2 separate regions of the Homo sapiens genome follow, and region 2 is linked to region 1. The links come from fine-mapping of genetic effects on gene expression. A gene starts in region 1. The other region holds a variant in brackets. All regions are shown on one strand. Distances are between the middles of the regions. Region 1 holds the start of CCDC144A (coiled-coil domain containing 144A). Region 2 overlaps PEMT (phosphatidylethanolamine N-methyltransferase).

Region 1 (5,369 bases):
GATATGACATGCTAATTAGATGTATTTAACTATTCATAGGAAAGTGTATGATAAATGACTGTAATATTTCTAATAAATATATTTTGTTTCTAATTATTTTTTTCTCACTGACATGTATCAATATTTTTTCAAAGTGCCACCCTTAAACTGAGTCTGTTTTCAGACCAGCATCTTCATGCATATATCCTTGTCAGGTCACAGTCTCCACTGCAGCTGCTCTTGCGGGTGGTGCTGGAATTTTCCACAGAGGACTGGGCTCCTGCTGGTTCCTCCGCTGCCCGTGTGCAGCTTTCTTGCTCAGGCCACAGGCTTACGTGAAGATCACCCTTCAAGGCCTACCCAGGACACTGCTGAGCTGTGCAGATGTGCACACGATATGTGCAATGTCATACGTGTGACTAAATGCCAACTGAGACCCCAGAAACCACTCATAGGGGGAATTATGCCAAGATTGAGGAGGCAGGGTGATACTTTTTTTCTTTTTCTGTTTTTTTTTTTTTTTTTTTTTTTGAGATGGAGTCTAGCCCTGTCGCCAGGCTGGAGTACAGTGGCATGATCTTGACTCACTGCAACCTCCACCTCCTGGGTTCAAGCGATTCTTTTGTCTCAGCCTCCCGAGTAGCTGGGACTACAGGCACGTGCCAGCACGCCCAACTAATTTTTGTATTTTTAGTAGAGAACAAGGGGTCACCATGTTAGCCAGGATGGTCTTGATCTCTTGACCTCATGATCTACCTGCCTCTGCCTCCCAAAGTGTTGGGATTACAGGTGGGAGCCACTGCGCCCGGCCACAGATATTTTGTAAATGATTGCTTCCTTACGCCTTTCTAGTTCATGTTTTCTTATACATAGTTACATTTCTTCTTTGCTATACTAAAAATCCCTAATTTTAGTTGGTCAGAGAGAGGGATTTGAGACTGAGCTCCCATCTCCTCGGCTGCAGCATCTGATTAAAGCCTTCTTCCTTTGCAATACTCATCTCAGTGATTGGCTTTCTGTGGGTGAGCAGCGCAGGATCTAGGCTGAAGCCCTGAGGCTTCAGTGACAAAATCTGTTTTTCATAATGCTATCTGTCTTAATTGTCCTCAAGAATTAGTATTTGAGTGCTCTCTAGATTCTCCTTTGTCACCCTTCCTTCCTTTCTTTCTTCCTTTCTTCCTTCCTTCTTTCCTTCTCTTTGCTTCGTTCTCTCCTTCCTTCTTTTCTTTCTTTTTTTGAGACGGAGTCTTGCTCTGTCGCCCAGGCTGGAGTTTGGTGGCACGATATCAGCTCACTGCAACGTTCACCTCCCGGGTTCAAGAGATTCTCCTGTCTCAGCCTCTGGAGTAGCTGGGACTACAGGCACGCGCCACCACGCCCAACTAATTTTTGTATTTTTAGTAGAGAGGGTTTCACCATGTTGGCCAGGCTGGCCTCAAACTCCTGACCTCAAGTGATCTGCCCGCCTCAACCTCCCAAAGTGCTGGGATTACAGGTGTGAGCCACCGCGCCTGGCCGTCACTTTTCTTCAATCTCACTGGTGCTCGCGGGCTGAAGGGTCAGGACGGACTAGAGGCGAGCAATCCTGGTGGCACCAGGCGTTCCCCGACCCGCCCGGGTCGCCAGCTGCACGGACCCTGGGCAGATGCGCGCAGCGGCTGCGGCACACGGCGGGGAGCGGCTGCTTGGCCCCATCCTAAGGCAGCAGAATGCCCAGAGCTGGTCCCTGGCTCCAGGCGCAGGCCGAGTAGGAGCTGGGCGGGCAGCGGCGTCGGGCAGGCCCTTCCAGCCGGGCTGACAGGCCGCTCTGACCCAGCCATCTGACTCCGCTTGCGTCCTGGCAGCGCGGACCCTAGGGCAACTTTGCTGCAGTGGCCAAGCCGGGGGCGGAACTGACCCGTACCCCTGAACCGAGCAAGCCTAGGAGCAGGTGCGCCGGCGGCGCTGTGAAGCGGCACTCATGACAGGCAGGCTGGGCACCGCCACCCCGAAACCTCCGAGGGAGGACCAGCCAGCCCAGGTTGGCGCTGGAGCTGCAGCGCCACCTGCAGGCCAAGGAGTCTTTTTCTGGGAGGCTGGAGCTGCAGCGCCACCTGCAGGCCAAGGAGTCTTTTTCTGGGAGGCTGGAGCTGCAGCGCCACCTGCAGGCCAAGGAGTCTTTTTCTGGGAGGCTGGAGCTGCAGATGCAGTGAAGTCACAGGTTCCGTGATGTCACAGGTGGGCAGGCGCACTGGTCTGTAACGGATTGGCTTGGCCTTACCCACGAGGCTTTGCGGTGGCTGTTGGCTTGGCGGTGGTCGCTTGGCTTGGCGTGGCAGTGATCGCTTGGCTTGGCATTTCTGGCTTGGCGGTCCTCCTTTCGCAGATTGGAAACCGCGGGCTATCCTGCTGGGAGGTTGTGGCCGAGGCAGTAGCTCGCTACTGATGGCCTCCTGGGGTGGAGAAAAGCGGGGAGGGGCTGAGGGGTCTCCGAAGCCGGCAGTCTACGCCACGAGGAAGACCCCTAGCGTCGGGAGCCAGGGGGACCAGTGGTACTTGGGCTACCCGGGGGACCAGTGGTCCTCGGGCTTCCCCTACAGCTGGTGGAAAAACAGCGTCGGCAGCGAGAGCAAGCACGGTGAGGGCGCCTTAGACCAGCCCCAGCACGACGTCCGCCTGGAAGATCTTGGCGAGCTCCACAGAGCTGCCCGGTCGGGCGACGTCCCTGGGGTGGAGCACATCTTAGCTCCTGGAGACACTGGCGTGGACAAGAGGGATAGGAAGAAGAGGTAATGGCCAGGCGAAGGATGCGCCGTCCTGTCGGGGACACTGGCTTTCTGGTGCCCGCAGGCCCCACGGCACCCGGGATGGGGAAACGTCAGAGGGGTCAGGGGCCCAGGCCTCTTAGTGAGACGGGATCAAATATAAAGGATTATTACTATTGCAAAAGTGTTGGTCTACTTTACAGGAGTTTTCTTTAAAAATATTGCACTTCCCAACTGTGTTTATCCATTTTCTCAATTTATTCATCAAACATAAGCTGAATACCTATTATACAGCAGACATATTCTACTGTCGCTCAGGTTCCTTCCATCCTTAAGAACTTCATGTTGGCCGAGCTCGGTGGCTCATGCCTGTAATCCCAGCACTTTGGGAGGCCGAGGAGGGCAGATCACGAGGTCAGAAGTTCGAGACCAGGCTGACCAACATGGTGAAACCCCGCCTGTTATGCTTTTGTCTCAGCCTAGACTTAGCTAAGACCTTCATGATAAATTATCCTTTAGGCCCTCGGGGTTCAGTTCAAATAATGTTGCAGAAAGAGAGGAGTTTCCTTTTTTCATTGCTACCAGATCTGTATGCTGAGGACCCTTTTCTTAGATCGTGGAATGTCCCATATTATCCTTTCCCAGATTTGTGGCAGGAAGCCATCACCAGAATTCTGAGTCTCAAGTATGTTAGTTGGATTTAACAGAGCTAAGTCTCATCCATGACTCATGAATATCCATGTATAAAATGAGAGCTTTGGCAGGGTGCAGTGGCTCATGCCTGTAATCCCAGCAATTTGGGAGGCTAAGGTGGGCGGATCACGAGGTCAGGTGATTGAGAGCATCCTGGCTAACACGGTGAAACCCCGTCACTACTAAAAAATACAAAAAAAAAATAGCCGGGCGTGGTGGTGGGCGCCTGTAGTCCCAGCTACTCAGGAGGCTAAGGCTGGAGAATGGCATGAACCCAGGAGGCGGAGCTTGCAGTGAGCCGAGATCGCGCCACTGCACTCCAGCCTGGGTGACAGAGCGAGACTCAGTCTAAAACAAACAAACAAACAAACAAACAAACAAAACTTGCTTCAGCAGCAAACATATACTGAAATTGGAACAAAATGGAGAGAAATTAGCATGGCCCCTGCCTGCATAAGGATGATGCACAGATTTTTGAAGTGGTCCATATTTTGCGCAGTCACTAGAAGTTCATTTGACTATTTGCTGACTAGTTCCAAAGACAGTGTGAGTCAAAGCAAACTGGGTATCACCTAATATTAAAATTGTGATTTTTCACTACAAAAATATGCAGTAAGGTGATCAATGGAGCTGAGTAACACGTGGGATGTTGTGTGCAAATATATTGTCAGTATGTATCTCAGAAATGAGAGAATGTCAACTTGCATGTCTTTCATGGAACTGAAAAAGAAAAGTAGCATTTTGTTTTCCATGTCAGTTGGAGATGAACATGGGGATTGAGCATCCTTCTAACAAAGATCTGCCGATTCAGAGTTTGAGTCTGTATGGAACAGTAGTCCAAGCTAGGTCTTGACATCTATTAGCTTTCTCCCCTTGGCGTGATTGATGAGCTCAGTAATAGTGGACAGTGTTGTTATCTAGTTTGATGAAATAATATATTTATAAGTAAATTTAGTTACAAACTATGAACTAGCTGTGATGCCCCAAATTATAAGCCACAAAGAATAGAACTAATAAAACTAGAACTTAATAACAGTTTTGGAAAACTGCAACATTTGAATATTAGAACCTCTGGAAAAATACACATTGGGTTTTATTTGTGATTCCAAAACCATTTCCTCAATAAAGCTCAAGAACAAATTATTTCATTGCTTCACTGTTTCTCTGAGCATTTACAAAACGTTTTCTTGTTAAATCTTTAACAACCTAGTGAAATAAGGCAGTAAAATCCTTGCTTTTTAGAAGAATACATTGAGCCTAAGAGAAGCAACTTGTCAGAGAATAAATAGCTGCTGGTAATAGAGCTAGGACGCTTTCCATTATGCCAAGCTAATGTGAGTTAATTTACTGAGCTATACTCCCTTCAATTCATGAGTACTTCATCTTTTTTTCTTCTTCAGAAGCTTAAAGAGAAGTTGGTAGAACTCACAAATTGAAGTATATGGGATAATTAAAGTTCTGATATTAACTCTGATATTGTTTGAAATACTCTAAAAATTTAATATATTTGGTATTTTTCATTTGTTTTAAAATAGTAATTTCATTTATTACATTTTTATCCATAGCATTCAGCAACTAGTTCCTGAATATAAGGAAAAACAGACACCTGAAAGTCTTCCTCAAAATAACAATCCAGGTAAGACTTCTGATAGTGAATTATTTTTGGTGGTCCTACCATAGGTAAAAAAGAAGTAAGAGTAAGGAAGTTTTGATCATGAAAGAGCAGTTTTAAAAAATCTTTATTTCTTTCTTGATAGGTTAGATTTCTTGGTAGGTTAGATGTCACAATTATTTAAAAAGTTAATTGTAGGTCATTTATTTTTTCAAACAATCTGGTCTGAAAAAAAATTAATTATGGTCCCTAAAATCCTATGTGATATTTTTGTATAAATAAGAAAAAGTGTTTTTTTTTGTTTTTTTTTTGAGACGGAGTCTCGCTGTCGCCCAGGCTGG
Region 2 (5,369 bases), 820 kb after region 1:
ACTCACCACCACCTCAGGCTTCTGTGCAACAAGGCCTGAGAGTCTTCTGCAAGGGGGAGCTGGTGCTGGAGCTGGACTCAAGGAGTCCTGCACCCAGCCCGGGCCGCAGAACGGGCATTGAGTGCATCTTCATTAGCTGGAGAGAAGCAGCAGGAGCTGCCTTCACTCCCCAGGAGGCAGCCGCTCAGCACGCTGGGGTAAGAGGAGCTGTTGGAGCCCAGCCTCCTGTTCTAACCACAGACAAGCCAGGCCTGGAGGAGCAAAGACGCCCCGATGGAGGGGGCCCCTAGCACTCCCACCGATGTCACGGATAGCAGGGCAGCAGCCACCTGGCCCTGCACCTCCCTGGGGCTCCAGCGGTCCTGCTCAGGGTCACCCCAGCCCTCAGGGTCTTACCTAGGAAAGTTCCAGCGAACCCCAGTGCAAAGAAGCTGGAGAGCACGAGCACGACGCCCAGTCCCAGGAGCGCGAGGCCCAGGCTGTAGGCCGCGGGGGTGTCCAGGCTCTCCATCCTGGGCTGGCTCAGCATGGCCTGCGTGAAGCTGTGGGCAGGGGATGGAGAGGGAGGACGTCATGGCCAGGGAGGATGTCACAGCCCGGGAGGAGGCCGACCTCATCTTCTCGCCCTCTCCCCAGGGACCCTTAGAGAGTAGCCAGCCCAGGGCTGCCAGGCCAGGCAGGCAGCAGGTGGGGTCCAGTCCACCTGGGAGGTGGGTGACAGTAACAGGGAGGGGCCCAGGCCTGTCAGATTTTTAAATTTTTTCAAGAGAAGCCAGAAATCCTGACTCGTATGTGAAATATCCTAATTTTTAGAAATAGACAATTCATGAAAGCCACTTTAGACCCTGCATGTGAGCAGGCTGGATTCAGCCCGAAGGCCACCAGCTTGCAAACTCTCATCCTGTCCAATGAGCAACTCATACTATGGAGGAAAGTGAGGCTCAGGAAAGACGCAGGTGCCAGGTTGCAGGGCAGGCCCAGGTGTCCCATTCCCCAACAGACTCAGTGCCCCGAGGCCTGGGGCATGCTCTGTGCTAGGGATTGCGCTTCCACAGCCCCTGTGGGTCTGGCCACATCCTGGGTGGCTTGACTTGCATTTAAAGGCACTTTGGGGGCCCTTAATGTCCTCCTCCACACCTGAATTCCCCCACTAGGCTCCCTTTGGGGCCAAACCACTGAAGGCCTTGTAAAAAGGTAGTGGGGTCCAGGTGTGGTGGCTCACGCCTGCAATCCCAGCACTTTGGGAGGCCGAGGTGGGCGGGTCACCTGAGGTCAGGAGTTCAAGACCAGCCTGGCCAACATGGTGAAACCCTGTCTCTACCCAAAATACAAAAATTAGCTGGGTGTGGTGGTGGGCACCTGGAATCCCAGCTACTTGAGAGGCTGGGGCACAAGAATCGCTTGAACCCAGGAGGCGGAGTTTGCACACCACTGCACTCCAGCCTGGGCAATAGAGCGAGACTTAGTATCAAAAGAAAAAAGAAAAAAAGAAAAGGCAGTGGCGTGACCAAAAGGGGGTGACTATGACAGCAGTGGGTCTAGAGGCTCAGGTTCTCCAGTTGGCTCCGGAGAACTGAGGGGCTGGTGCAGGGAGGGCACAGGGGCTAGGCATGTGCTGATGTACCCAGGCCTCATCACAGGGGAGCGGGCGCTGGTGGGAAGGGGGCCCTGGGTGCTAGATGAGAGGCACACTCACAGGAAAGGCTGTGTGTGGGAGCACGGACATGTGTGACCAAATGTGCTCTTCCCATGCTCACAATAATCACAACACAGAAGAGACATGGAGATCTGCTACCTCACGCAGGGCAGCGCCTTTCACACCCAGTCTGTAGACGGCATCTCCCAGCAGGGCCAGCTTACCATCCACCCCACCACCCATCCTTCCTCCATCCATCTATCCTCTATGCACCCACACATCCATCCATCTGTCCAGCTATCCATCCTTCCATCCATCAATGTATCCTCTATCTGCCCACACAACCATCCATCCATCCACCATGAAGTATCTTTGTTTGCTAGGCTCTTTCAAGCAGATTGAAGCCCCCATCTTCATCCACTCGTTCCATTCATTGGTGAATTCAGATTGTTGTGAAACTCCTTATGCTGAGCTAAGGACATACAGACATGTCTTTATGCCTCCCTGGAACTCCTTCCTCCAGCTTGACTGGGAGCTCTTGGGGAACAGAAGTTGCTCCTCCTTCCCTGCGTATCCCCCCAGCACTTGGCCCAGGCCACAGAATGGATGTTTAGTGCATATTCATCGACTGGAGAGAAGCAGTAGCCGCTCCTTCCTTCTCCTCCCATCCCCAAGAGCAGAGAAGGAGCCAGGGAGAAAGGGAGAAGGGCCTGTGGACAAAGCCACCAGGACCCGGTGGCAGAGGCGGGCACACCGACCTGTTAAACAGCGGCATTCGGGTGTCAGGGCAAACCCACTGCCGGTCATGCTGCCCATACCCCCAGCTCTCCACCCACCAGTGCCCTGCCCTGATCCTGCTGCTGCCCGGGCTCAGGGTCACCCCGCAGCTCCAGGCCGAGCCTCTGGGATTGGCTCAGGGTCACGGGCTGCCATGGAATCAGGTGGCCACATGCACACCCAGTGTGGTGCCACGATCCAGGCACACCTTCTCCCCTGCCTGGCACCCTCCACTCTCCTGCCTGCAGATGGTGGAGTGGGAGGGAAAGGAAGGGTGCCGGCCCTGCTCAGGAGCATGGCTCCCCTGCAAGCATCTGGCTCCTTGGCTGCCACTGCAGTGGGGACCAGAAAACAGACAGGGGTTGGGAGGGGCGAACAGGGGAGAGCATTCCAGAAAGAGGAAATAGCAGGGAGGTGTGCCTTAGAGTCTGGGGCAGGGCATGGAGCAGGGAAGGTGCAGGCCTCGGCCCGGCAGGGTTTGGAATGCACTCTGCCTGCTGTGGAAAATGCAGAACCAGGGAGACCCATCCAGGTGCTGCAATAGGGGGTGGGCGCAGAGGCCAGGCCCGAGACGCTGGAGGGTCACTCTGGACGGAGACTCTGTCGCTCTTACCCCCTCCTGCGGAGACCCGAGCCAGGCCTGGGTCCATACCCCATGCTC[A/G]GGGTTCCTCTGCCAGAATTCATCTGCATCACACAAGCAGGCAGCAGATGAAAGGGAACTTCCTCCCTCTGGTGTGGCCCAAAAGCCCAGCTCATTCAGGGCCCAGCTTCCCTGGGGGCATGGCTCAGTAGGCAAATCAGATCTGCTTGGAAGCAGATTCCTGATGAAGGGCAGATCCGGGGCCAGGGAGCGGGTGGGAGAGGCCCCAGATTTGCCCCAGACCTGACCCTCAGTCCCCCAGCTGCTCCTCCGCCTACGGCCCCAGTCCTGGGGCCTTTCCTTTCCTTTCTCTGAGATGACAGCCTGGGCTGGCTCCTGGCACAATGCTCTGTGGGTCATTTGCTCAGAGTCGGCAGAGGAACTGGGCTGAGCTCCTCCCTGGCGTTCTCACCAAGTGGCCCCTTACCCAGTCAAATACACTCTGATTCTAGATTCCAGGTTTACTGGAATCTCATGGCCCGAATTAGGCAATCGACAGTGTTCTAGCTCCTCCATTAAGCCAGGAAAGCACAGTCCGTCCATTCCACAGGGAAAATTAGTGGATGGATGAGTAGCTCTGTGACCACAAGCTCCCTAACAGAATGAGGTAATATAGGACGCAATTTCCCTTGGAAGTATTCCGCACTAGGGGTGGGGAACGGAGACTCATTCATTTGCCTTGGGTTCTATTTTTAAGACCTGGATTGAACCTTCAGTCATTAATGTGATTTGAGGCTGTCTGCACTCTGCTCCCATAAAATCCCGGAAACCCTGGGGTGGAGGTGGGGAGGGGGCATCACTGCCCTCAGTGTCCCCGCCCTGTCCCCAGCCAGCAGTCCTGGGCCACACACCAGGCCAGAGGCACACGGCCCCACCTGGGACAGGCCTGTCCCGTTTCTATCTGCAGCCGACCAGAAACACTTCCCTGACTTTGATCATCCTGGGGTGTCTCCGCAACGTCGTCCACATCCATGTGTGGCCTGAGTGCCATGTACTCCACATCCTTCACCCCAGGCTTGGAGTGACTCGCTCTTTCCACTCCATCTCAGCTACACGACGCTAGCCATGAAATGAGTCGTCTGATGGGCTCATTTCTTTTCCAAGACATATTAAAATAAGCATGTAACTACTAAAACAAAAAATGTTCATCTATGCAACCCCCGAGACCATCAAAGGGCTTGAATTTCGGGCTTTGACGCTGCACTAATTCTGAGCATTTGAATAACACGTCACCTTTCCAAAGTGTTTCCAGAACCCATCAATAGCTGAGAGAGAGTCTGTCTTGTTTTACAAACAGGGAAGCAGATGGTAGAAAGCAGGAGGGGCAGGATGGCTCTCCTGCCTCCTCACGACCTGTAAACAGTGGGATAGGCTCAAGCCTCACGGGCAGGCCAAGGACAACAGGCAGCAGTATCCCAGCACCCCTAGCACCTGGGAATCCCAGGCTGACACCCACTCTCCTTCCAGACTTCCTGGCCGTGTGTGCTTTGGGGATGGGGAGGGTGCCTCTTCCCTCCTTCCCAGCCACAGCCCCTCAGGTGCCAGACCAGCCTGGTCTACCAGGGCCTGGACCCACTCTTGCCGAACTGCAGCCCCTCTCCCTCCTTCCTTCCCAGCAGCTGGGGGCCCTTGTGCCCAGGAAAGCCTATGCCAGCTTCCCTGTCCTAAGTGTCCCCCCACCCCTTACTCTCCAGCTGCCCTCATGGACCCCGCCCAGTGGCTACCCCAGGCACCTGCCTCGAGGAAATCACTCTGGTGAAGGGATTTCACAAATAGAATTCAGGTCCTAATCAGCTGGCCTTGAGTTAATCAAAAGGGAGGTGACCCTGGGTAGGCCTTTCCAAAAGGGTCTAGAAGCCAGAGAGACCAAAAGCCAAAGCCACAGAGCTGCCTGCTGTGCTGCGGGGAGGCCACCAGGAGCTGGGCCTCAAGGACCCGCGTCCTGCCAGCAACCCGAAAGAGTGGAGGACCACGCCTTGGGTGAGCTCACACCCAGCAGGCACCTTGATTCCAGCCTGGGGAGTCCCTAAGCAAAGACCCCGCCCCCGCATCCAGCCTCCTGGACACAGAAACTGTCACATAGTAAGTTTGTGTGGTTTAAGCCCTAAGTGTGTGGGAATTTGTTACACAGCAGAAGGAAACTAATACACTTGGCTTCCCAGTCCACAGACTCTTTAAAAATTCTGGCCTGTTCTGCCAAGACAGCAGGAGTCGCTTTTTTCTGCCATGGAACGCTGCACACGCCCAGCCCTCCATTGCTCCATCGGAAGCAAACTGTCCCATCAGCTCCATGCCCTCCCTCCTTCATGCAGCCGC

Evidence for each region. PIP is the estimated chance that this variant, and not a neighbour inherited with it, causes the effect.
Region 2: its variant is fine-mapped to the expression of CCDC144A in breast (GTEx, PIP 0.97).

The regions. Positions count from the first base shown.
Region 1 is chr17:16,687,998-16,693,366 of GRCh38, forward strand. CCDC144A (coiled-coil domain containing 144A) reads left to right here and starts at 2,244. Exons shown (of 17, transcript NM_001382000.1): 1 at 2,244-2,747; 2 at 4,982-5,052. The coding sequence starts at 2,404. It also overlaps the pseudogene RNU6-405P. RefSeq lists an enhancer at 1,234-2,137.
Region 2 is chr17:17,512,113-17,517,481 of GRCh38, forward strand. PEMT (phosphatidylethanolamine N-methyltransferase) reads right to left here. Exons shown (of 7, transcript NM_148172.3): 4 at 397-542. Among named protein-coding and RNA genes, the nearest start is that of RASD1, 18 kb to the left of the region's middle. RefSeq lists enhancers at 617-1,486, 1,487-2,356, 3,227-4,096, 4,967-5,369. The variant A/G (reference allele first, on the strand shown) is at 3,075.